Linked DNA regions of Homo sapiens. The protein of the gene in region 3 interacts with the protein of the main gene of each other region in a biochemical or structural test. Each region holds a gene or a part of one and is shown on either strand. Other genes may lie near its edges.

Evidence for each region.
Region 1: of the proteins of PIAS1 (region 3) and FLI1, one has a biochemical effect on the other in vitro, tested with the Homo sapiens proteins (one study listed by BioGRID).
Region 2: of the proteins of PIAS1 (region 3) and PRDM1, one has a biochemical effect on the other in vitro, tested with the Homo sapiens proteins (one study listed by BioGRID).
Region 4: of the proteins of PIAS1 (region 3) and HECTD2, one has a biochemical effect on the other in vitro, tested with the Homo sapiens proteins (one study listed by BioGRID).

What each region holds. Positions count from the first base shown.
Region 1 is NC_000011.10:128,809,047-128,813,773, forward strand, and holds the end of FLI1 (Friend leukemia integration 1 transcription factor), read left to right. Parts: intron 1-110; coding exon 111-158; intron 159-1,412; coding exon 1,413-1,942; 3' UTR 1,943-4,221; downstream 4,222-4,727. UniProt on the Homo sapiens protein: Sequence-specific transcriptional activator. Recognizes the DNA sequence 5'-C[CA]GGAAGT-3'.
Region 2 is NC_000006.12:106,081,816-106,089,357, reverse strand, and holds the start of PRDM1 (PR domain zinc finger protein 1), read right to left. Parts: upstream 3,023-7,542; 5' UTR 2,805-3,022; coding exon 2,763-2,804; intron 1,605-2,762; exon of another isoform or gene 1,512-1,604; coding exon of another isoform or gene 1,428-1,511; intron 1,158-1,427; coding exon 909-1,157; intron 1-908. UniProt on the Homo sapiens protein: Transcription factor that mediates a transcriptional program in various innate and adaptive immune tissue-resident lymphocyte T cell types such as tissue-resident memory T (Trm), natural killer (trNK) and natural killer T (NKT) cells and negatively regulates gene expression of proteins that promote the egress of tissue-resident T-cell populations from non-lymphoid organs.
Region 3 is NC_000015.10:68,050,348-68,057,345, reverse strand, and holds the start of PIAS1 (E3 SUMO-protein ligase PIAS1), read right to left. Parts: upstream 3,032-6,998; 5' UTR 3,020-3,031; coding exon 2,996-3,019; exon of another isoform or gene 2,121-2,995; coding exon of another isoform or gene 2,115-2,120; exon of another isoform or gene 2,111-2,114; coding exon of another isoform or gene 2,108-2,110; exon of another isoform or gene 1,463-2,107; coding exon of another isoform or gene 1,433-1,462; intron 1-1,432. UniProt on the Homo sapiens protein: Functions as an E3-type small ubiquitin-like modifier (SUMO) ligase, stabilizing the interaction between UBE2I and the substrate, and as a SUMO-tethering factor. Catalyzes sumoylation of various proteins, such as CEBPB, MRE11, MTA1, PTK2 and PML.
Region 4 is NC_000010.11:91,406,088-91,413,367, reverse strand, and holds the start of HECTD2 (probable E3 ubiquitin-protein ligase HECTD2), read right to left. Parts: upstream 3,025-7,280; 5' UTR 2,930-3,024; coding exon 2,792-2,929; intron 2,740-2,791; exon of another isoform or gene 2,596-2,739; intron 1-2,595.

The DNA.
Region 1 (4,727 bases), on a different chromosome or scaffold from region 3:
TTCCTGTGATCTTGAAATAAAAGTATAAACCCTTATGGTTTTCTTATGGTTGGTACGGTTGTCATATTTTTTAAAAACACTGAAGCAAATTTCCTTTTTTATTTCCTTAGATCCGTATCAGATCCTGGGCCCGACCAGCAGTCGCCTAGCCAACCCTGGTGAGTTTACCTTGGCCTGCAAGCCTTTTTTGCCAGAATGTTTCGTAGCTTTGTGAAATCACAGAGACTTCTGTCCTAAGTCCAGACACCTGAGTGGGGAGTAACATGCACGTCTTTCCTTGAAATGTTCAATGTCTGTTTCTGGAGCATGTGAACAACAGGTCAGGGCTTGTTATGAGGTGTCAAGGTTGGTTAGCTGAGGATACTTCTAGGAATAAACACATCAGCACTGCACATGTGCACTTAGGTGTAGATGAGTAATAAGTGGCACAGGTAGGTAGGCGTTTCAATCAGAGAAAATGGGCAAGAAAGAAAAGAAGACAACTCCACTCAGCTCTCAGTTGTCTCCCGCATGCCAGGCACAAGTTCATAAATATTCCAAAGGGTTTTATTTGTGATTTTAGAAAGTGTTGCCAAGTTATCTGGCCTTATAAAAGAGATGTGTCCTGGAAAAGTTGCAGATATAGTCAATTTGACCTTGTACTTTAAAGATTTAGTATCAAAAATAACTCTCAAGAGGGTCCTTCTAAACCAAGTCCATCGAGATTGGGAGCTAGCAGGCCCTTGTCGCAGTGTGGCCCACTCACCTTCCCATCCCAGGGACTCTGCCTACCCATTCCTTAGTGCCTGGTCATTACTGCCAGAGGAGAAAGCAGCCACCCAGCATATTCTGGGTATTTTTCTCTCTGCACAAGTTCTCTGTAGAACTTAGAGCTGCAAGCCAAGCTCTGGGCCTGCCAAGGGCCAATCCAGGTCCTGTCCATCCAAAAGCTAAAGCTCATGGCGCAGCTTCTCCCAATGACTCCCACAGTCATGCCTTGCCCCTGACTTTTTATTGCTGACAGGGAATTCCCTGGGGGACATGACCACTAATTAGAGATCAGTCAGTGATTCAGGCCTTTCTAGATGAAGAGATTCAAAAGCCTTGCCAAAGGGATTGAGGGGGGATATGGCTCACCCAAGATCACACAGCTAGTTCTGGGCAGAGTTTGCACCTCACTTCCCACATTCCATTTACCAGGCCTTGGGGCAAAGCATCTTAGGATCTAACCTCGCTTATTATACCCATCTCCAAGGCAAGCAGAAAGGCAAATCAACAATGACATAAGAAGGGCTTGTCAAGTCGATCCCAATGTCGAAGGAAACAAAAGGTTTCTTTAAAAGGATGAGAAGCTCCCTGCATTTAGGGAACTGGGTTCTGCCTTCTCTGGGCTGAGGTGTTCTGTTCTCTCCCGTTTGCCTCACGGCGTGCAGGAAGCGGGCAGATCCAGCTGTGGCAATTCCTCCTGGAGCTGCTCTCCGACAGCGCCAACGCCAGCTGTATCACCTGGGAGGGGACCAACGGGGAGTTCAAAATGACGGACCCCGATGAGGTGGCCAGGCGCTGGGGCGAGCGGAAAAGCAAGCCCAACATGAATTACGACAAGCTGAGCCGGGCCCTCCGTTATTACTATGATAAAAACATTATGACCAAAGTGCACGGCAAAAGATATGCTTACAAATTTGACTTCCACGGCATTGCCCAGGCTCTGCAGCCACATCCGACCGAGTCGTCCATGTACAAGTACCCTTCTGACATCTCCTACATGCCTTCCTACCATGCCCACCAGCAGAAGGTGAACTTTGTCCCTCCCCATCCATCCTCCATGCCTGTCACTTCCTCCAGCTTCTTTGGAGCCGCATCACAATACTGGACCTCCCCCACGGGGGGAATCTACCCCAACCCCAACGTCCCCCGCCATCCTAACACCCACGTGCCTTCACACTTAGGCAGCTACTACTAGAAGCTTACTCATCAGTGGCCTTCTAGCTGAAGCCCATCCTGCACACTTACTGGATGCTTTGGACTCAACAGGACATATGTGGCCTTGAAGGGAAGACAAAACTGGATGTTCTTTCTTGTTGGATAGAACCTTTGTATTTGTTCTTTAAAAACATTTTTTTTAATGTTGGTAACTTTTGCTTCCTCTACCTGAACAAAGAGATGAATAATTCCATGGGCCAGTATGCCAGTTTGAATTCTCAGTCTCCTAGCATCTTGTGAGTTGCATATTAAGATTACTGGAATGGTTAAGTCATGGTTCTGAGAAAGAAGCTGTACGTTTTCTTTATGTTTTTATGACCAAAGCAGTTTCTTGTCAATACACGGGGTTCAGTATGACACAGAATCATGGACTTAACCCGTCATGTTCTGGTTTGAGATTTAGTGACAAATAGAGGTGGGAAGCTTATAATCTAATTTTAGGAGGACCAAATTCAGTGGATGGCAACTGGAACATTGATTGTAAGGCCAGTGAAGTTTTCACCCAACTGGAATTTGATGGAAAGAAGGTTTGTGTGTTTAAGACGCCAAGGGCATTGCAGAATCCCTCTCAGTGGACAGTATGCACTCAGCTGACCACTCTCTCTAGAAATAGTCAAGATATGAACTAAGAAATTTTAATGCAAATACATACATTCCTGAAAGACGGGGAATTAAATTACTAATTTTTTTTTTTTTTTAAATGATGACAGTGGTCCCAGAACTTGGAAAAGTTGTAGGGATTTCTAAACTCAAGCAGATTCGCAAGTGCTGTGCGCTTGTCAGACCATCAGACCAGGGCCAACCAATCAGAAGGCAACTTACTGTATAAATTATGCAGAGTTATTTTCCTATATCTCACAGTATTAAAAATAAATAATTAAAAATTAAGAATAAATAAACGAGTTGACCTCGGTCACAAAAGCAGTTTTACTATCGAATCAATCGCTGTTATTTTTTTTAATGTAATTTGTACATCTTTTTTCAATCTGTACATTTGGGCTGTCTGTATGTTTTTATAGCTGGTTTTTAAAAAGCATAATATGCCTATAGCTGAAAAGGAAACAGGGCTGTTTAAGTCACTGACTTATGAGAAAGCAAAGCACTGGTACAGTTATTTAACAGGCATACACAAGCAGGGAAAAGATAATCCATTTAGATCTTTAATGCTTTGGAAATGCGTGTAACAGTACTGCAATAATCACAGCTCTGGGAAAAACAACGAAACTTTCCCTTGTGGAGAGGAGGGATTTTCCTGCTCTATATAAGCAACATATTTTTAGACATTAAAATATATATAATTTTGCAGGTAATTGTTGACTTTTTTAACTATATTAAGTGTTAAGCTGACAACTGTCAAAGAAGACCATGTTGTAAAATAATTTGACTAAATAAATGGTTCCTTCTCTCAGTGCTGAGGACAGTTTTCTTATTTACCGCCCCCGTTAGGTCAAAGGGTTTTCCCTGGGGAACTTTCCTATTTACTTCTTGCACTATCAAGAATTTTTCGAATGTACCTACTGCAGTACAGCAGAAGGTAAAAAATCAGTGTGGTTTTTCATTGTTGTTGATGATGTTTGTAGTGTTTTTGTGTGTGTTATTTAAATCTTCCTCCAGCCTAAAAGGGTTTTATAAAACAGCAGCTAAGGCCATGGATAAACCTGTATGTAAGGACTGGAGCAAAGCGAGCTGGTCTATCCAGACTGGTCTGTGAGATTTAACTCTGCAGCCTCCCCTGGGCACTTCAGACCCAGACGGCCACCTTCTGCCACTCCAGCAAAGAATAAGCGCCCTGCTTCCTTCAGGTCTCAGACCAGGACTTTATGGCTCATGCAGATTTTTAAGGTCATTTTTCTTCCCAAGGAAGAAACTTGCCTCCAGTTCCTTCACTGTTAGGTAGCTTATTTTCATTTTCTCTATTTTACAATGAAAAGAGTGAGACCTGGGAAGTCCTTGATTTGCAAGGAATTAGACTCACAGCATTGGTAACCCTAGAACCTTCTTAGGGTAACACTAAGTACCTTCTAGACAACATGTCTACCTAAATGAAATGGGATGTGTTTCGGAACATTTGTCTCCAGTTTTTTTTTAATCTTGCACCCTGCCATTTAAAAAGATGTGTAAAGCACATATTCTCAACATATGCACATTGATTTATAAATCATATATACAAACTGTTACATTATTCTTCATATTAGAAAACAAATACAAAATAGAACATTTTAAATGGTGATATAAAAATAAATTGAAACTGAAATTCTACTCTTTTCCTCCTATTTTCTCTATATTGAATATCCTCTGCTATTAACTCTCAAAACAAAGATGTTGGTCTTTAGTGAAAAAAGTGTATGCATGTACTGGATTTCTAGTGACTTCCAAGAAAGGAGAAAATTAAAACTTGGTATTAGTGGCCCAAGCATAGAAAGAGGAATGATGAAGGCCAGGTATGTTTAAGAACAAACTAGCTGAATTCTTTGGCAGATCTCCATCTTAGCCACGCAATTTCCCCATCAATTTTGAAATCTGCAAAGTATTCATTAGGGAAAATGGAGGCATATATTTCTGAGTGCTGTAAGAAGATGCTCAGCCCATTAGTTCATTCTTTTAAAGGTTTTCTTTATGTGTCCTACTCAAACACTGGCTCAGGCTCATCTTCTCTACACAGTCATAGAGCTTTAGCCAAATCTCGCCCCCTGAATATGTTCCACAGTGATTTGTCCTATGCCTCAGAAGCTGGCCCACTGGCTGACAGGACTGGGGCACCATTT
Region 2 (7,542 bases), on a different chromosome or scaffold from region 3:
TCTGAAGGAAGTAATAGAATTGACAGTGCTCTGTGCTAATGGTGGTATGGGAAGTCTGCTGAGGGGTCCTTTCATTCAACTCAACCCAGTAGTAGACTAGTAAGTGCAACTACAGTAAGCCAAATTCTGAAAACAAGAGGTGGTTCTGCAAGTTATTTCACAGCTAAACATCACGCCTAGCTATAATCTTTATATTAAAGGTAAACACAAATCAGTTGCTCATTCCAAGTTTGGGTTTTCATCCCCTTTGAAACAACAAAGAGTGTACCCACTTCAGAGGCCAGTAAGGAATTGGCCTGCCAGCCCAGCCCCAGCAAAGGAGCTGCTGCAGATAAACAGTGGTTAGCTCTGAAGTCATCCAGACAGAGGACACTTTTACATGACCCCCTTTCTCGGCTTATACCATCACTTCACTTCATAAACACGTCAAAGTTTTGAGGATAGTTTTAGAAACCCAGCTAATAAAGCTGGCTTGTTAAAAAGAGTAAAGCCAACTAATTACCAAAGACAGACAAAAGAAATATTAAAACTTTTTTTTCCAAGAAAAAGTTTTCTCCCTTAAGAGATATTGTACAACAGGGACACTAGGGCCAGTGGGCCCAGAGCTTTCTTGAAGTTCACTGACAATTTCACCCACCCTATGCTGCAAGTTGCTTTTCTAAGACATGCCAATTTGCCAAAATATTTAACTGTTTACTAATTAGTGAGGAACAGTTGAAGGCTGGAAGAAATGAGAAGGAAATGGTTTAGGGAAAGAGAAAGCAATGCAAGAATTGAATAGAGCAATCAATTATTTACTGATACTTACAGATTCTCAGAGGTTTTCAGAGATATACAAGGCCTCAAGGGCAAGTAGGGAGATTTGGCACCAGGTCCCCAATCTTCTTGTCAATAAACCAGAGGCTTACCTCTTCACTGTTGGTGGCATACTTGAAAAGCAGATTCCTTGGTAAGGATGCCTCCGCCTGAACCGAAGTACCGCCATCAGCACCAGAATCCCAGGGGTGGTCGTTCACAATGTATGTACACTTCTCTTCAAACTCAGCCTCTGTCCACAGAGTCATATCCGCATCCTCCATGTCCATTTTCATGGTCCCCTTGGTCCCCTCTGCCAATCCCTGAAACCTCACAGTGCTGGAGTTACACTTGGGGGCAGCCTGGAAGAGAAAGGAAAGGCCTTTAATCCCCATTGTCCCGCCGTTCCTGTGGCTCCTTCTGAGAGGCTATGACTAATACAGTAGTCTGAAGACTTTAAAAGCAGATGCAGAGTGCTTGGTACAGTTGAGAAAGAGCCAAGAAGCCGTATAAAGTAAACTGCCTTGAAAAGAAGCAAGGTTTTTAAATGCTACTCTTAGTTAAAAAAAAAAAAAAAAAAAAGAATGTGGCAACCTCACTGTGGGGAAAAGGAAAAAAAAAAAAAGAATCACCTCTGAACAATCCCTGGCTTTACCTCTCATGGCAGAAAAATGTTCTGGGCACACAGTCCAGTGTCCCAGAATGCCTGGGGTCATGGCCGCCAGACCCTCGGCACTGTGGAAAAGCTGCCTCAGAAAAGTGTCACAAACAAGGAGAGGAAGAGGAAGGAGCTCTGTCTGCCTCTGAATGAAGCTAAAAATGGAAAGCGCGTGTGGTGCAGGAGCGGAACCCAGCCTGCCTTTTCCAAATGGGGAAGACCGAACTTTCCCACCAGCTCCCAACGCAAAACAACTTTCAAAACAACTGCCTCCTCCCTCTGCTGCGAGCTCTCTTTCATCCTCTCACATGGAAGACTGAAAAGGGTTGCATCCTGCCAGCATCACTGAGCTACGGCCTCTTAGAAATCACTTGGACCACAGGAAAAGAGGAGGAAAAATGGGTGAAGGGGAAAACAGCCTGCAGTGTCTTCTGACTTGCAAGCATCTCATACCAAATTGAAAAGGCAAAAACAAAACATAAAACCGTTTAATAAAATTCCCTGGAGAGAATTCCTTTAGGAGTCCTCAGCTACAAATAGCACTTTCCATTTAAATCTGAAAGTGTATGAATTCCCAGAAGTCACTGATGTACTACAGTTTACTGTAACTAAAGTTATAACAAATTTAGAAGACTTGGAGGACAAGCTCTGCTTCCACTTGTACATTGATGAGGATATTCCCCCAAAATCCTCCCTCACACTCAGAAAAAAACTGTTTTCCAAAGGCAAAAAAAGGTAAACAACTTCTGTAAGGGTTTTCTCATATAGACATGTTTGATAAAAATGAGGAATATGGGTATCATTTCCATGTAAGAATGTGTGTTTGTTCAAATGTAAACATAACATTCTGTGGAAGTCCTTCAAGGAGGTTTTTACATTCTTCCACTTCTCTAAATAGGATGCTCTTAAAAAAAAAAAAGTTGGATGCAAAGTTGTTTTTCCCTCAGTTATGATTTAAGCAAACCTGCTTATTTTTATTTAGTTCCAACATGTAGAGTCATGACGCCAAACACATGTTAAAAATAAAATAAAATAGAAAACTTCAGCCAACCCGGAATAGTTTGACGAGTGTGAGCTGGAACCACTACTGAAATTTCAATGAATTGGCAATTATGTCTAGAACTGAAAGGGTTAATGATTCATAAGGAAAGTCTCACAAATGTTTGACAGCACTAAGTGCACTAAAGCAGAAGCATGTTTCTACTGCGACATTAGCCAAAAAAAATTAATAATAATAACAATAAAGGAAAAGAAAATAAAGTTTTCAGATCAATTTCAGAATTAAAAAAAAAAAATTCAAGTTCCTTACCAAGGTCGTACCCACACGTTTTTCCAAGCAAATATCCAACATCTGAGAAAAGTCTCGTTCATCTCTACCCAGTCCACATTCTCCCCGCGTCCCCCGCCAGGCTGAGCCGCACAGACGCGCACCTCGGCGGTCCCTCCTCGCTTCGTCCGGCCGCCCGGGCGCCCGCGTCCCAGCTCCGGGCGGACAGGTGCCGCGGTCGCTGCTCTTGCCTCTCCGCAACACTGGAGGGCCGAGTGTCACGGCAGCACTTTGTCTGTGTTAACCGTCTGGCTTCCCCTCCCTGCTTAAGATTTCCTTAGCCACTCGGCTGCGCGAAGTGGGGGCGTGGCCAACGTGGCCAACACCACCTGGCCGAGCCCAGGGCTTTCCCCCAGATTGCTAGCACAGCCGCCGAGAGCTTCCTCTCTTCGCATGTGTATTTCAACATTGACTTGGAATCTTCTTACTTCCCTTTGAAGGCACTTAACCTCAACGCTTACTTGGGCTCTATTGTATTCTAAACACTCCAGATCGCCCTCCTTCCTGGCGCGGCAGAATTAGGGGGCGCACGTTCCTTAAATTAAGGAAACTTAAAATTTACCTACACAGTTTCTGATTTCTCAGCTCAAATCCCCAGGTACAAAAGACACAAATCTTACTTCAAAAGAGCAAGTTAAATTGTTTTTGCAGCTAGTGTAATACAGTGGAGCTGTCTGGTCCTCAAGCTGTTGTGTATGTAACGCACGTTTCCCCGCCCCCCGCCCCAAAAGTTGTAACATTCCGTTTCTCCTGCTAACGTTCAAACTTGGCAGAACTAACTTTCCTCTTTTAACTATTTAGTAAATAGGGAAATAGGCAAAAGTTATAATTCTACAGATTGTTTGTTTTCCTTTCCTCTCCTCCCAGAACCCACAGGCTGACTTCCCAGGAGTGTAAGTAAAATGTAGAGCATTAGTCGTTTCACAGTTCAGAGGAATATTGAACTGATCACTGCAAGTGGAAAGCGGTCGGAGGCAGTAATTAGTGGGGCTTATTCTGAGCCCCGGCCAGCTTTTCCTCCAGCCCAGTCAGTCCTCTGTTGAAGGAAGGACATCCTGTGATGATGGCATACAATGTCCTGTTTGTTTATTATTAAGAGCGTGGACCTTGCATTCCTGCTTCTCATTACAAAACAAACCAGATGCTTTACTTCCTTCAATGGTCTTGTGCCTTCAGCAAGGAATCCTTTAATTCAGAGAAACAATGTTTATAGCAAACACCCCATTTCAATTATTATTTAGATCATTGAAATCCAGGTCTTCCATTTTTCCTGCTTGCCTTACCATAGGTAGGTTTTTTTAAAATCATTTCTCCTTCGACCTGCAATGTCTTTTCTAACATTTTAAATACACGTGTGCACACACATCCACCCACACACACACCCACATACACACACCCAGTTCCAACCTAATGATACCAACTTAGTCATACAATGAAATGGACATCTGAGTATTTGTTTACAGGAAGAAATGAAACAAAGCAAAACAAAAGCCCAACTCAATCCTAAAAAATATGTCTGTTTATCTTTAAAATTTCTTTTCTCACTTTTAGAAAACTTTTCTAGAATTTTTTTTAGGGGAGAGGGGGAGAGGCAAAAGATTATTTGCCAGGAAATGGTGTCTAAAGTCTTGCTGCAATCTCTCTCTCAGTACAGAACAATTAAATTCCCACTAGGGGACATGATTAGCACACACTCGCTGCTTGCTGCGTGGCCCACCTGTGATTGCATGTTATGCCAGAGGGGACGCTAGCACCAAGAGGAAGCAGGACTTTTAGAAGGCAGATCTGCTGGGGGTGGAAAACTGAATGAACAATTCCTAAGAGTCCTCAGAAAGCTCCAAGCTGATAATTAAACAAGAGAAATCCAGCCTGCTCAAGAGGGTTTATTAACTGATGCTGAGTCAGCACCACAATGGACAGAAAAACAATGTAGTCATACTGAAGGCTGGCCTGCTGTTCAAACAGTCTCACTTGCAGATGTTAAAGAGTATTTCACTTCCCTTTTAGAATCAAACTCTGTTCTTAGGCCACATACACCATCATGCAACTGCTGGTGAGTCAACCATGATAGAGTAAGGGAATAGGCAAAAAGTTTGATATTTGAGGTGGGAAGAAGGCTATTTTAAGCCAAATATTTGCTTTAATGACTGGAAGATGCCAGTGAATCAACTCACTGTTAATTAATATCAGCCTGCACTCACCTTCAGAGGTGGTGAAATGGGCTTGAGTCTAGGGAGGACGCAAACTTCAAATACCAGTGTGGGGCTTAGCCAGGCAACCCTAAAATTAGTTCCAGGTGTCCCAGCTGAGCTGGACAAGGCCACGGGTAGAACTTTAAGGAAAGTAAATTTTCAGACACAGAGTGTTGGAATGTAAAGTCCTTCACATGTTTGCTTCTTGTCTCAAAGTGATTGGGAAAAAAAAAACCTCCAAACCAACTTTTGACTATGATTATAGTAGTCAATGATGGATATCATCATTTAAAATGAAAGCTACCAAAAAGGAAGAAGAAATAAAAGAAAGGAAGCTTGCTCCATAATAGGAAAAAACATGTCCATATTGTAATATTTAGGTATTGTCCAGCACAAAACCATTAAGGGGGAATAAAAGGGACTGACCTCTGAACTTCACTCGGTCCTCCCAGAGGGCCTGAGCAGTGCACCTTTTTACTGCTGACTAAAGCTGGGAGACCCTGGCAGCAGTACAGCTGTGCAGAGAGAGCTATCAGAGGCTGCCACTGTCTGGAATCTTATGTCTCAAAGGGTTTGTTTCTAAGTAATAACTTGGTGCATTTTTAGTCACTATATTATTTCCCCCCAAGTTAGAACACCGAAAAGAACCTCAGTTATCTTTATTAATCAGCATTTCTCAGGCAGAGCTCTCACATTAAAAGTGTTCACAATGGCAGCAAATCATGAATGAGCCAAATAGTTCTGTTCTCAGAAATTCTCATCTATTCCCGTGGATGGCATCATCACAACAGTTCCATCAGCCAATTTTAATTCGGTTTCAGCTACTGGGCCAGTTTTTTTCCTCTCCCAGTTCCTGGGTGGATTGGGAATTGCAATGTTGGTGGCCAGATGACTCTATAGGGAAAGGACTATTGTAGAATGAAGGGAAATTGAGCACCAAATCTGGAGACCTGAACTCCACTTGGGGAAAAAAAATTTTTTTTTTCGAAAGGAACTTTTTTTTCCTAAGGTAAAAAAAAGGGATGAAATGTACCCAAGATGAAACATGTTTTCATTTTCTCATTCAACTCCTGCCATACCCAAACAAGGTCAATGACAGGCTAACCACATCAAGAGAATAACCCCCCCACCCTCTTCTTCCTACTCCCTACCACCCACCCACCCTCACCCCCCACACCCATTTCCCGCTTCCTGTAAGTTAGGCATCTTCATGCTGGTAAACATTTGGGGACCAACTGTAAGCCTGAGCCTGAGAGAGGGGCACTGAGGCTTTGAAGCCCTCCCACATGTCTCAAAGCCAGGCTGAGAACTAGAGGGACACTTGGTTTTTAAACTTTAACAGCCTTTTCAACTCAAATCACTGGGCTTGGCCTTCTGGCTGCCTTCCTTTTTAAAAGCCGGACAAGAAGAGCGAGTATGTGTGTATGAGTGAGAGAGAATATATGTATGACACATGCTATGTTACAATGCAGCCTGTGTGTGTCATTGGTGTGATATGTGTACGATATGTTTCGATGATGAGTTGAATCAATTTAAAAATAGCACAAGCTTCCTTCTCATGACACAGCTCACCTCCCAAAAACTTTTGACAAACATATTCAGGGCCTAAACATTGGGACGGTGACCTTCAGGGGCTGTTGGATGTTTTGGAATGAGGTCAGTGTTTTGACTTCCTACATAAGGGAAACAAAAATTAAGTAAATTCAAGAACACAAGTAGAGCTCCCTTCCCACCCTAGGAATGAAGATGTAAGTGTTCTCCAGAGGACTTTATAAAACCCACAGGATGTCCAAGGTCTCAGAGTATTTATAGAACCACCTGTATCATTACATCTAAGTATTAATATCTTTTTTAGCCCTCCCTTCAGAAAGACAGTTGTATTCTCATCTAATCATTTATATATGATTTTAAAATTATTTTTTAAACTATTCCTTTAGTTCAGCATCTACCAACTTAATAAATGATAATAGCAATACTAATCATTTCCAGATGACTTGTGGGGAAACCAAGGTTTGGGGTTTCCAAAATTTGCTTTCCCTTCTAATTATATTTTTATCATAGTGAATATTCAGACAGAAGAATTTTAATTTCTGAGAAGTCTGTGGGAAAGAACAGGAGAAGGAAGATTATTTCAGAACTCAGAAGACACTTCCTAACCTTACAGCTGGTGGGAAAAAAGGAATAATCCTAAAATTAAACTAACAGAAGGCAAAACCTGAACTGTTAACAAGGGAGAAAAAGAGCAATAGGAAAGGTGTCCACTCTGAAACTCATCTCTTGTCTTTATTTGGAGAACCGGAAGAGTAGCTTCCACACAAATGAGAGAGCAAGACTGTGGGTCAAATGTTTGCTTCTCTCACCTTTCAGTGGGAGGAGAAGCCATTCTGGAAGAGGGGAGGACTCAAGGTGGAAATAAAGGGAAGGTCGCCAAGAATAAGATTAGGGAGGACCAGTTGGCTTAAAAATGAAGGTGAAAGGCTTCTATGGAGGATGAGCAGGAACAGCAGCAGAAGACCCAGTGCAGGGAGGAGCAGTCCCCTTGGAAGAGGAAAAGGGACCCTACAGTTGTA
Region 3 (6,998 bases):
CCCTCCTGCTTCTAAGTTCCTAAAGATGACAAAATACCCTCCACATTCTTAAAAATGACATTTATGGGTACTCCCCTAATGAAAAATTAAACCTTTCATAAACAAATGTGCATAGAGAATTCATTTTGATATGTATGACTCACAATCTAATTTTTATTGGCAATATCTTGAAGTGTTGCAGCTTGCACAATTCCTACAGGGGATAAAGATCTATCTGTTTTTCCCATCTGATCTTTGCACATTTCTTATAGATTTAAAAGGACTCACTAAAAAAGCCATGAGGAAAATAATTATGAATACAATCCACAGCAAAATGAAGTATGGGGCTGAAACCTAAAATAATGAAAAGTCACTGAGTTTTATGTAAAGCTTCACAGTTGAAGTACTCTATTCCCATTTAAAATTTCAAAAAATCTAGATTTTTTTCTTCTTACTCTGATTTTTCCTATCATATTAGGAATGTATGATATTTACCTCCAAAAAATCACAAACAAAAAGCCTTCAGAAAATATCATTTCCAAAAGGAGTATCTGCCAAACCTTACTGCACAGAAAATTATATATACACATTCTCTTTTTTTTAACACATTCTCAAATAACTATGGTAGGCGTTCCTGAGATCACCTCCTCCACCCCTCAAAAAAAGAACAGCAAATCTAACCACAATAAAGTATTAACCAAATTTTTTTAACGCCGCTATCACCAGCTAAGCAATTTATCACACAGCTCCTCAAAGTCTCAGACACACACAATGACATACCAACATGTCAAAACAGTTATTATAATTTGAAAAATTATACAACAGGAACATAAGAGTAGAAAAAAAAAACTTCCTCTGGAAAAACTCTAGTAGATTTGGGAGAGCACAAAAAACGAGATTAATTTTAGAAAAATAACATTTCTTCAAGTGTTTGGTGTTTATCTGATACTGGTTCATTTTCGTAAAGAGAAACTTTACCTAACAAGACTCACACCAGGGATCTGATCTATCCCCAAAGGCACTTTCTTAAAATGAGAAAGAACAAAGAAGGAAATCTCTCAGCATGTGCTTTCCATACTAGTTTCTTTGGACAGCATCAAGAGTGACAATATAGTCTGCACATGCTTTTCAGCTTTATTCTATGGTCCATGTATAACAACTGATTAGCTATCATTCAAAAGAACTCCTAACAAAATAAATATTACAAGGCAAAGATCACAGCAACATAGTGACTCTAAGAGAAAAATTATAGAAAACATGTCTTAAAGTTGTGTGCTTTTTTTTATTTCAAGGGTTAATTATCTCCAAATATTCAAATTCCTAAGGCTTTCTCATTTCAGTCAATAGTTTGAAACTGGGGAAAAATCAAAACCATCCATTGTAAATCTGCTCTCCCTTCAGTAAATTTGTAATTAGAAGTACATTTTAAAAGAATGACACTCAAAGCCAATACCTTAACATACGAATCTTGGAGTGTAAACATTGTGAAGTTATTAGGAGAAAAGCTCTTTCGGTGAGGATATTCCACAGGAAAAACTCTACAGAATCAAATCTGGCATTTGGTTGTTCTAGAAGTTGTCGTTTCATTATAACGGGGAAAAAATTAAATAATTTTTATTTATTATAAAAAGAAGACTCTCCCCAAAGATTTACAATTGTATATCCCCATCTCCTCTCTGACAGAGATGTCAGTTCTCTGGGTCGAGACATAACCAGCTGCTGGGTTCACACACACAGGAAGCCACAGAGAAGATCGCGTTCAGAGCCTCGAAATAATACGCGTTAGTTAAGAACTGCCTGCTACTAAACCAAAATTATTCAAGCGGAGCCCCATTTGTCACAATCCAGTCATAAGGGTTCCACCACCCCCTCCCCCAACTGCTTGTGTAGTGGTATATCTGCTACGGTAAAGAAGCCATCATCAGGTAAAGATTGGGGTGGGAGAAAAGCGGGGAAAAGGGGGCACCCTTTCATCTAATTTCGTGAGGCGTGAGTAATTGGTACTGTTAAGAGGAACGTTCTATTTATCGGGGGTTGGAGTAGCATGAGGGGAGAATTTCGTTCAAATCAACATGGCCAGCAAGATGTCCCTACAAACAAAAGGCAATGGGGGGATATAAACACGAACCATTCACCTCCATCAGCTACAGCATCGCCATCATGGTGTGTGCAGAGACCCCCAAAGGCTCCTCTCACCCTCCACACCAGCTAAGGCAAAAGAAGGGAGAGAGGTAGCTGCATCCCCCCCTCCCAACACTGCTTCCAAAGACACACTCTTCGAGGGGGTTTCTCCCCTCGGCTGCCCGGAATCAGAGAGAAAGAGTAACGTCCCGCTCACTACCTCTCAGCCGAACCCCAACGCCGGCCCGGGGCTCGCTAAACTTTACCAGAGCTTCTCCCCCAGATCCCCACCCTATCGCCCCGGGATCGCGCTTCCCACAAGCGGGGCACCCCAGGCGCTTCCTGACAAGCGAGCAGCCGGGGAAAGCCGAGTCCGGGGCGGGGGCTACTGGGATCCACGGAGGGGCGGGGCGGCCGAAGCCAAGTTCCCGGGGGTCTGAGAAGAGCGCCTGACAGGAGCCCGGGACTGCAAAGGAGGAAGAGGAAGCGGCCACGGGGAGCTTTCCCAATCCCCCCTACGAGAGCACCCTGCCCCCAGCCCCAGCTCCCCATGGGGGGCAGGGAGGCTAACTGGAAGGTGAAAAAGCCGAGCCCATGAGACAGCTGCAGCCCCTACCTCCGGACTCCCTATCTCTTCCCCCGCCACCCCCGCCAGAGGCGCCCACAACAATAACACGCCGGGGACGACCCGTCAGCGCCCCCGAGGCACCCGGGGCCCGCGGCCCGCCGCAGGCGGGCCCCCTCTGCTGAGACCGGGCGCGCCTCTCTCCCTACAACTCCAGGCCCGGGTGGAGTCAGGCCCGAGAGGCCCCCCAGGGTCGGACCCATCCCCCCTGGCAGCAGCGGCGCCGTCTCCGCGGCCGAATATTAGAAGTGAATTCGAGCTGCGCTTTACCTTTAGTTCCGCACTGTCCGCCATCTTGCGTCTGTCAGCGCAAGCGCAGTGAACTTCGCCGGGGGCCGCCGCTAGACCCGCCCCTCTAGCCGGCCTGGCCCCGCCCCGGCCCGCCCCTCCACCTTCCCAGCCCGCCTCTAGCCTCCGCCCCGCTCAGGGCGCTCGAAGCCCCGCCCCGGGCACGTACAGCTGCGAGACAGGCACGTTCCATTTAAATAATGGCGCCAAGCGGCGAGGTTTGACAGTTACTGCCCCCTCGGTCTCCCTGCCCCCCATCCTAGCTCGGCCAGCTCCTCCCGGGAAGGGCCGGAGCGAGAGGGATGCTGGCCTGAGCCCCATCTCTCTGCGGTCCGCGGAACGCTTCTGCATAGCTTCGACGCCTACGGTCACAGAAACAATGCTGTCCCCCAACCCCCAATAAGCAAGGCTTTTTCAGCACCTGCTACCTGCGAGGCTACCAGTGGGCTAAAAATAGAAATCCATTACATTTAAGGGGCCCTTAATGAAGCATTTCTATCATTATTGGCTCAGATCCTCTTGATAACGAGGGGAGGTAGGCAAGGAAGAGATAATTCCCATGGTATAGATTCAGAAATGAAAGCTCAGAGAGGAAAAGTGACTTGCACAAACAAGTATTTTAACGAGGTGGCGTAAGACAAAATTTTGAAGGTGTTCATTAACATTTTTGTTTAAAAAAGTATTTATTTAGTGACCATCTGCTTGCCTTGTGCTAACGGCTAAATATACATTTTGAAATCAAAGTCCGTGCCCTTCTGTAGTTCTCTAATGGGGAATCAGAGAAGTGAACGAACAAAGATACAATTGCAAATGTTAGTGAGTACCAGAAAGGAGCAAAAGGTCATTGAGAGAGAGAAAGGGTTTGGGAGATGTACTTAATTCTGGGAGGGTTTTATCCACTAAATTGACATTTAAGTAGACTTGATGGAAGGATTATTTCATTCCTTTTCGTCTCTACTGAAAGCCTTCTATATACCTCCTCCCCAACCCCCACTTTTACTAATCAACTTTGCCTCATAACTCATGGAAAAAATGAAAGATATCAGAAATAAACTCCCTTATCTTCTCACCATCAAAACCACCCTTATCTGCATAGTAACATTTGGGTTGCTATGAATGAAGTGTCCCTGCGCCTAGGAAGGCCAGTCCCTTTACCAGTGACCGGATTTTTTTCACGCACATTCCTAAGGATTTTACTCTTACAATTACCTACCCTCCAGCATCGTTAGTTTTTTCCCTCTCAATTGAATTGCTCCTATCAGCATATAAATATATTGAAATTTCTCCCATCTAAAATAAACTTCCTTTGACTCCAAAATCGCCTCTAGGAACTGCCCTATTTTTCTGCTATCTTCATAAATTCTTAGAAAGGTTTTTCAAGATCTCTCCAATAGTGCTTGTTCCTACCTCTCACTTCACATTCACTTCTCAGTCTACCCTGATCGAGCTTTGGCTTCCATCATCTGTATCACTTATCAAGATTACTAATGATCTTGTTTCCAAAGGCAATTGCCAATTCTCTATCCATATCTCAATTGACCTCTCTGTAGAATCGCGAATAATTGACATGGTTCCTTTGATTTGAAACACTTTTCCCCCTGAACTTACCTACACGTCACAGATAGTCCTGTTCCCTCACTGGGCCTCCTTTTTGATATGCTGGTTTCTCCTCTTTGGCTCAATCTTTAAATGTTGGACTGCTCCAGGGCTCGGTCCTTGCATTCTTCTCTATTTTATCACCAGGTGATCTCATCTAACTGGTTGACTTGAAGTCTATATGCTCATGACTTTGAAAATGCTCTCTAGCCTAAACCTCTCCATTGTCAAGAAACAAAAGTAAAACAAATTGAGATTCAAGATCTCATTGGCATTATTGCACTCCTAGAATTGGACAAAACTTCATTCCACAAAATAGAATAAATGTTGCAATGAATCAAGCAGAGGATGTTAACTTTAGAGACAGAAAATAGACTGAAGAAGGCAGAAACAACAAAAAGCAGATTGGTTATATCAAAGTCACTTTTCTTTAAGGTGGAGACGTGGAGACAGAACAGTAGAAAGAAAACTGATTGGTTAACATTGGGTTACTTCAGGTATTCTATTTTAAGGATTAAAACAGGAAATTTCATTATCATGCCTGTTAAAGATTGAAACTTCTGTTTGGAAAATTGGCTATCTCTCTTACCATTTTTTGGAAAACCAGATAACTCAGTTTTGTTTTGGTGAACATGGGTGACACCATTTTGATTTTTAGTCTGATCTGGAGGCCTGATGCAGGAATTTGGTTGAAAACAATGGCATCCCATGATTTTTATTTAACAACCTAGGTGAAATTGTGACTAAGACTGAGGGCATTAGCACTACCCTCATTTAACATCATTCTGTGTTTCCAGTCTCAACACATCATTTATAGATTACAGTGTCCTCATGATTTTGTATTTCTGTCATTGCAGCTGAAGAGAGACCATATGACATTCAACAATTGGCTGTATGCAAATATGTAAAACTTTTTGAGAGAACATAATTGAGAATTGTGACTATCAGGAGGACAATGCCAAGAGTTCGGAGTATGCTTCTTAGCTAGGGTTGCCATAAACCAAACCAACTAAAATCAAATAGATCAAAGAATGAGCCAGATGAGAAATCTACCTGTTTTCACCAAGTAGCCTGCTAACTTTTTGAAACTGAGTCTCTACAATACCAGATTATTTATGTACAACAAGAAGTGACAGCAACAGCACAGATTTCCCCGTTTGGTTAGTACGCAGCAATTCTATCATCTAGCATCTCAGAAATGGGTTAAATTAAAGCAAAGAGTGCTAACTCTACAAAAGAGGCCACTAGTAAAATTTGAACAAACAGTTGCATTAGGGATGTTGCTAAAGTTACCCACTAGGTGGAATAAAAGCTCTCTTGGGTCCTGTAAATGTTTGGGTTTGACCCTTTATCAACTTACCCACAAAAACTACTAATTGTGAAATTTTAACTACAGCATTATCCTGCCAAGTGGAAGAGGTGGGCATAAGCAAGAAAAAATTAAGAAGGGAAGGAGTCTTATCATGGTAGCGAGTCTTATTCTGACAGTCTTGGAAAACGCTGTCCACAACATGATGTCAGCAATTTCTCATCCTGGTTTGCAGTTTAAATGTCTCTGGCTGTGGCATCAGGTGTTCTGCTAAACTCTCTATGTGGCTCCCTCATCAAGCATGGGACTTGTCCCTTGAAATTTATATCGAGTTGTTCAGCTTAGCAGTTTTTGTTCATGGTTGGAGAATTGCAGTCAGATATTGAAGGCAACAAGAACTCAGGATCCAGGCTAGTCTATAGATAGATGATAAAAACTCAAAAACAATGAACAAAGCTGCAATCTAGTAACAGGTGTACTATGGTTTTCTTCAGAAACATAATTTTTCTCTCTACAGTCATTCCCATTTCTACCAAAGATAATCATGGTAAGACCAATTTATTTTTAAAATTAATTTAGTTTCAAACTTGACCTGATTATTTACATAAGTGCGGCAAGAATAACCACATAGGCTTCTTTTAAATTTATTTTGCTGGAAATTGTGACAACAAATCTGGACTTTTAAAAACCTCTTGATGTTAGGAAGTCAAACCAAGGCAGACATCAGACTTTGCCTGCAATATCTAATATCTTGAGGCTTCTGGGCCTGCCTGGAAGTGACTACTTTTATTCACTATAAAGCTGAGAACACTTGAAAATTGGCATTCTATGATTCCATGCACATTTTAAAATATGACATTGCTATATATATATATATTCATATATATATTCATATATATGAATATATATATGAATATATATATTCATATATATGTATATATATGAATATATATGTATATATATATGAATATATATATATACGTATATATATATATGATATGGTTTGGGTCTGTGTCCCCAACCAAATGTCACCTTGAATTGTAATAATCCCCAAGTGTCAAGGGCAGGACTAGGTGGATA
Region 4 (7,280 bases), on a different chromosome or scaffold from region 3:
ACTGTGTTAGGCACCTCCTCACTAGCTGGAATGGACTTCCTTCACGTTTAGATGGTCTTAGGATAAAACACTTCAGGGCTGCCCTTTCCAGCATTCTTTCTCCCACCCCTGTACCTTTCTGTAAACATAAAGGATACAGCCTAACTCTTCAACCTTATTTAGGGTCACTGTAAACTGACCTTCTACTTATTGATAATATTTATATTATTTTATTCATATATATTCATTTATAAATGTGGTACAATGATTTTCTGAAAAAGCCACTATTGTAGGGTCACGAATTGAGTCATAGACACAAACTAGACAGGCAGAACCATTAGGCTGGGGCAAAAAGGAACAATCACTGGAATGTCTCAAAGAAAAAGTTATTGATGACAATTAGGTTCCTAAGCAAACCTCTAGGAGCTCTATTTAATCTACAGGAGGCTGAAAAACAACTCAAGAGGCCACAAGCTGTATTTCCCTGCCCACCTACCTCACACATCAAGACCTCCTCCCCCTCCCCACACATACCAAGGCCTTCCTAGCTGCTGTAAAAGTCAATCACCACCCCAGTTCTCCTGGATTTCTTATCCTTTGGATGGACTAAGGACCAAGCATAGATTTTCTACACTTAAGCTTTTCACTGCTATTAGCTCTGAATTCTAGCTTTGAAGTCTCTCTTTGACAAATACACACACACACACACACACACACACATTCTGCCACAGATCCTGTCATAAATTGTTTTTTTTTTTAAAAAATAAATAATCAATGGTACTGACTCTGAAAGACTTTATAAGGCACAAGCAAGGCTGAGGCAGGAGAATGGCTTGAACACGAGAGGCAGAGATTGCAGTGAGCCGAGATCAGGCTACTGCACTTCAGCCTGGCGACAGAGCAAGACTCCGTCTCAAAAAGAAAAAAAAAAAACCCTCAAGTTTTGTATATTTATCCTTATCCTCTTCTATTCCAACTCATACCTTTTCAAAGTTTAATTCAAGATTTAAATTTTTTTCTTGAATATATTCTTCTCTTTGTCTAGTAGTACAAGTCCATAATCCTCTATTTACAATTTCAAAGTCCTATAAATTCTTGAAACTGAAGTGTCTTTGCAACTCATTTGGTGGCAAAAACATGCACCTAATCTGAAATGACATGACGCTACTGACTTTTTCCCTTTAGCATGAACACATAATTTCATTACAGTTATTAAGATGGTTGATTAGAGAGAACTGGCTAGGACCTTACTGTGGGTATTAAATAATATATGATATATGTACCGAATTACCTTTCTAAAATCTGAAAAACTTGAAATCCCAAAGCAGACTGTAGACTTGTATCCACACTTGCAAATTCCAAAACGGCAATTTTTCAGTTATGAGATGAATAGGTTTTTGGGAGAGCGTTTGCTTGAGGACCTAAACCCACTCATTTAACTGTTTCTATAAGTACATACATTTACTGTTTTAAACAACCAACTTAGAAATGAACTGCTGGAATTCTGTGAGTTAAAGACTTCCTATATAAAATCTGAAAACCTAGGGTACCAGCAGCAGGAACCAGGTCTCCAAGCAGCTGGGTGACAAATTCCTTCAAAGCATTTTCTAGGGTAATCCCTAACCCCAGCTCCAATCTACCAATCAATTGTAGCTACGCTTTTAAACGTGTATCATTACTGTTCGCAATTTGCTGCATTGATTTAAAGAGCTTGTTTTAACAATTTCCAGTTATCAGGGCCCTCAGACATTTTTGAAAAACCTACCGAATCCGAAAATTATTCCTAACACCAATACAGTACTTAACGAAGAGTGAGCTATTTTAGTAAGTTCTTAGTCATTTAAGAGGGAGGTTTTAAGAAATGAACCGCAAGTAGGAATAAAGAAAATGTATAATGTTCACTAAACTTTTACTATTTTGTCACACACAGCTGCATGACAAGTCATGATCTTTAAATATATCAAAGCAAACTTTCAAAAAGTACTTAAATATTATGTCAAAATAAAAAATTGCAAAATCCGAGGTTTTTTTTTAAATTGTGCTTCAAATTAACCAGTCACAACCACCAGTAAAAATAGGGAAAGAGGGGGAGGGGGCTGTCCCATGACATCATCTGGCAATATGTAGTTTGAAGCCTGACAGCGCTCTCCAAATAACCCTTACGAAGATACAGCTGGGAAATCATCCCTGTCAAGCTTAGATAACTTGGGTTTAAATAAAAGGTTCAAAAAGCCTCCCCCCACCTGAGTCACATGTCTGTACCATATGAAAAATAAAACCATCACTGATGCATCTACCTCCCACTACACTGACAGCAACGGAAAGGTCACAATTAAGTGGAAACTCGCCGCAGAGCCTGTTTAATCTGAAGGGGGAAGGGAAAGAAAAGCGAAGAAAAGGACAAAAATCTGCGCGCCTCCAAGGCAGGCAGGCAGGCAGGCACCTCCGTGGAAAACCCACTCCCGCCTGCTGACACCTATGCTCATCCAACAGATCATGCCGACTCAAGATGCAGGTCATTCTCTTAGAGAAAGTGGGGGCCCAAGCCCCAGAAAATAACCCAAACATCCAGCGGAACCGACCACCCCCAACATTTCCCGAGGGTGGTAGGTGTACCTCGCGAAGTGTTCGGGGCTGTCCACGAGGCACAACTCTTTTATTTCTGCCCAAGGAAGGGCGGCCTGAGTGCGTCTCCCTGGAGTGCCAGGGCGTGCCCAGGGTAAACGCAGGCCTCCTGACGGCCCTCGCCCGGCCGCCGTCCCTCCCAACTCCCGCCGTCCGGGGCGCCAGACGGCCCCGGCCCACCACCTACCGCGGTCGCGCCGGCGCCCGCCGATACGATGGGCGGCAGCTTCTCGCGCTCTGACTCCTTCCCTTTCCTCTCCTCAGGCGCGGGCGCCGCCACCACCAGCGGAGTGGCGGGCGAGGGTACCCGAACCGCCTCACTCATGTCGGGCCGGGCGGCGGGAGCGCCAGGCGGCGGCGGCGGCCTCAGTGTTGCTGGGGCTGGCGCTGCTGCTGCCGCCGCGGCCGCGAGAGGGCTCTGGGCTGCCGCTTCTAGCCGCCGCTGCCGCCGCCACTCCGCCCCCGCCCGCGCCCGCGCCTTTGCGCGCGAGCCCGAGGCCGCCCCCGCGCGCGCCAGCCCCGCGGACGCGGCTCCCCACAGGTCCCACAGGTTTCTTGCTCTCGCCTCCCCCGCCCGCCCGGGGCTCGCGCGTCGCGGGTCGGGAGCGCCGGCGGTAGTCCCCCTCGTCAACCCCGAGGGCCCGGAGAGAAGGCGCCACGGTCGACGCCCGACCGCCATATTGTTTGCAGAGTGTCGCCCGAGATGACGAGGAGACCCCGCACCCGGGCCGCGCAGGAGAACCTGGACTAAGGACGGGCAGTCGGGGAGACAAGTCGAGCCCTGCAAAGGGTCGGACGGGGATAGAGTGTCCGAGTGGTACCAGTAGGGCAGGACGTAGGCACAGACTACCCTTCACGGACGGCCCTGGCCTGCGGCGCCGAGTCCCGCGGGCAAGCGCCCTCGGGGTCTGGGCTGGTGGCCTTTCGCCTTCTTCCAGGCGCCCACAAAGCTGTCCGCCTTGGGGCTTCTGCCTTCTTATCCTTGCCCGCCCTCCTGAGCCCAGGAGAGGCGGCCCGGAGCTTGCGCAGCCCGGGGAGACAGCCTTCCTGGCTCAGCAACCGACTCTTTTGTACACGCCTGGATGGCTTCAGCCTACACAGGAAAAGCCTGGAGGTGGGGAGGAGTGCGACGTGGTGGGCCCCCCCTTTCCCCTTCCCCCATAGGATTGGACGGCCAGTCCACACTTTCCATTCCTGTTCCTCTCGTCCCTCTTTGACTGCCAAATCCGCCTCTCCCTTCCCGTCCCCACGCGCCTACGTTTTGCTCTCTCCCCGCAACCCTTTGCTGTCTCCTATCCGTCCCTTCCTTGTTCCTTTCCGTTTATGTTAGAGATGTACATACCCAAACTCTGCTGCACAGTCCTCAATCAAATCATTACAAATAGGAGTAAAAACTTGAAAGCCGAAGAAGAGAGCTTTTAATTATGAAATTAAAATACCCCCCACCTCCACCACCAGGACACCTAGACAATTTCCTTTCCTTTCTTGTCGCCCCCTCCTTTTCCTTTTTCTCAGTCTACTGGAGCGGCGGGGACACCTGCTGATCTAGGAGAAAAGAGAGTAAGAATGCGCTGTATCGCCTGTTAAAAGCAAGGAATTTCGATATTCAGCTCTATCAGATTTTTTATCTGTGCCTTCATTATTTTATTGGAGGTTGAGTGAATTTTTAGATCAAGAGTACCTAAGTCCAAATATAAGAACCAAAAATATCTCTGAAACAAACCCAAATATGATTTCGGGGTATCTATTGTTTACATAATTTGGAGTTATTAGTATAACTAAATACTAGTTATGGTGCATCATGAGATAAGGTTGCATGTTTTCAAACCCACAATTTGTAACAAGTAGATCTGAAGCAAACAATGTTGCCTTCTAAATTTTGAATTCTGACTTTCATTTATAGAAAGGCTTTCTACTTTAATATAGTTGCTGTTGCCACCTATTTACTTGTTAATTAACAAAAGGTATAGAATAAGTGCCATATAGTCAGCAAAAAGTATTTCAGTGCTAATAGCCTTGGAGGGAAAATGATGTATGTCGGCATTACTTTGAAGCATCCTCCTCCTTTCTATTAATATTTTTCTAAATTCTTTTTCAGGATTTTCTTTCCTTAAAACTACTGAAATACTCATCCCATAGAGAGGAACATAACATTATTTTCTGCTTTTAGCAGGTCTGTATGCTGATCATGGATACAGGAACAACTCAAATGTTATTTTATAAAATGAAGCCTTTATTTTAGCTGCAATTTCAGATATTCTGTGCTAAGTCTAGGTTGATAGAACAAATACTAGAGGGAAAAGTATCCTCTTTCCTATTGTTTTCAACTAGATTTAGTAATTTGCTATAAAAATGTTTGGATGAGAAACCACTTGGATAACAGGCCTTCTGCTTTCTTTTTTCATGTGTGAGACTAAATAAAAGTGTGTCTGTACATGTAGTCACATTCAATAGAACAAACTGCTTAAATATTGGCAAAACAAGGCAAGTCAAAAATGTTAATTTCTGCTACTGCACCAGAGTAGATAACCCATTTCTTAACAAATTCTCTGATTAATTAGCTTGTGAGTTCCATGTAAAAAATGATAATTTGTTCATGTTTCCTTTGACTTCTTATTAAATAAATGTCCTCAATCCACCACCTCATCCCTCCCTCATACATAGTCCAGGAGGGGGCTGGAGAATGGGAATGGGGCCTGCTGGAAAGCTGTAGAATTATAGCTCTGGGGGAACTCGTGGTGTGCTTGAGAGACACATTCCCAACTGCCATCAGTGTGCTTCTGGAGACCCAGGTGGGAGAAGAGAGTGTTGTAAAGCAGGACATACAGAGAGCTCTGGCCATTCTGTACAGAGGTGTGGAGAAGATGCTTTTTAGCTATGCCAAGTGTCAGACGTGCAACAGTGAGGGTATCCAAGTATAAACTCATTCGCTTTGGAAAAACTAGGAGCGAGGCAGAAGAAGCATTTCATGTTTCTAAGTCCAGATGGAAGACCTGAGCTCATTAATTATACCTATGGGGAATAGGGTTTGGCAGGGTGGGAGTGAGGGTTAGAGAACTCATTATTTCCCTGGAAGAAAAAGAAAGACAAAATTACAAGGTAATGGAAGGTCGAAATTATAGATAACTTCTATTTTAATTATGTATAGTAATACTAATGTAGTGAACAATAGCAAAATAGGTGCACAGGTCATTTTAGAATGGTTTATACCACTAATACCTTAATTTTAGAAGGTATAGCTATGAAATAGTGCAACTTATTTTAATATTTCAACTGAATGTTGTCCTAAAGTAAACTTGGGGAAATTATTTTAGCCATGTTGACCTTGTTAAAAAGATTTTTAGAACTCTTTCTTAGGTATAATGGTTGTGGATTTTTAAAATTACTATTTAAAAAATAACTTGGCTGGGTGTGGTGGCTCATGCCTGTAATCCTAAGACTTTGGGAGGCCAAGGCAGGTGGCTCACTTGAGGTCAGGAGTTTGAAACCAGCCTGGCCAACATGGTGAAACCCTGTCCCTACTAAAAATACCAAAAATAAATAAATAAATAAATAAATAAATAAATAAATAAATAAATAAATAAATTTAGCCAGGTGTGGTGGTGGGCACCTGTAATCCCAGCTACTCGGGAGGCTGAGGCAGGAGAATTGCTTCAACTCGGGAGGCAGAGGTTGCAGTGAGCTGAAATCGTGCCACTGCACTCCAGCCTGGGTGACACATCTCACAACGAAACAAAACAAAACAAAAAAACCTTTTCTTTGTTTAAAAAAAAAAAGATGCTTTGTCATTACAGAAAAACAGAAAATACAGATTAGCAGAATCATTTAAACTAAGTTTCGATAGTCACTAAGACCTTGCTGTGTATCTTTACAGAATCTCTTGTATCTATCTACACACACACACACCCCACAGTGTTTCTTCCTTTGTTTTTATAAAAATTGAACGTACTGAAACACTTTTGAATCTTTGCAACTAATTCTTTAGAATAACCCCAGTGATGTGATAAATCTTTATCTTTAGAGAATGATTTTTTAAAATTGCACAATGCTATACACAGCCAAGACTGAAGAATAAAGTAGATGATGATCAAGCTTTGTATTTTTAATCAGACTTCTCTTGAATCTGTTCTCTCTCTGGATTCCCATTGCCATTGACCTAATCAAGGCCCTTAACATCTCTAACCCCAATTATTTCCGTAGCCTGGCAACTGGTCTTGCCTTCAGTTTCTTACCTGCTCTAATGGCCGCCAGAATGACCTATTCAGAATATGTAATTTCTTGCCAGCCCTTTGTTTTAAAATACTGTAGTAGTCTTTCAAAGCCTTTATGCTAAAAATTTTCCCCCTAGTGTGGCATTCAGCTGAATTCTTTGCAAAAGAAGGCATTTTCTTAATGTCCTAAATAGAATCATTCCTTTCTTTCCGTTCCCAGATCATGTTGTACATACTTACCTTTATAGACCTATTACATTACATCTTAGTTTTTTGTTCCCCAAATAAGTCATGGCACAGAGGGGAAAGACTATGTCTAATTAGTCCTTGAGTCCCCACATGTAGCACACTACCTGGAGTATGCTGTTGAGGAGGCACTCAGCAAACTCAGAAGAAACGAAACAAGATGTTTTATTGAAGTGGTTTGTACAGGGGCTCTGAAATCTTTTCCAAAGATAAATTATA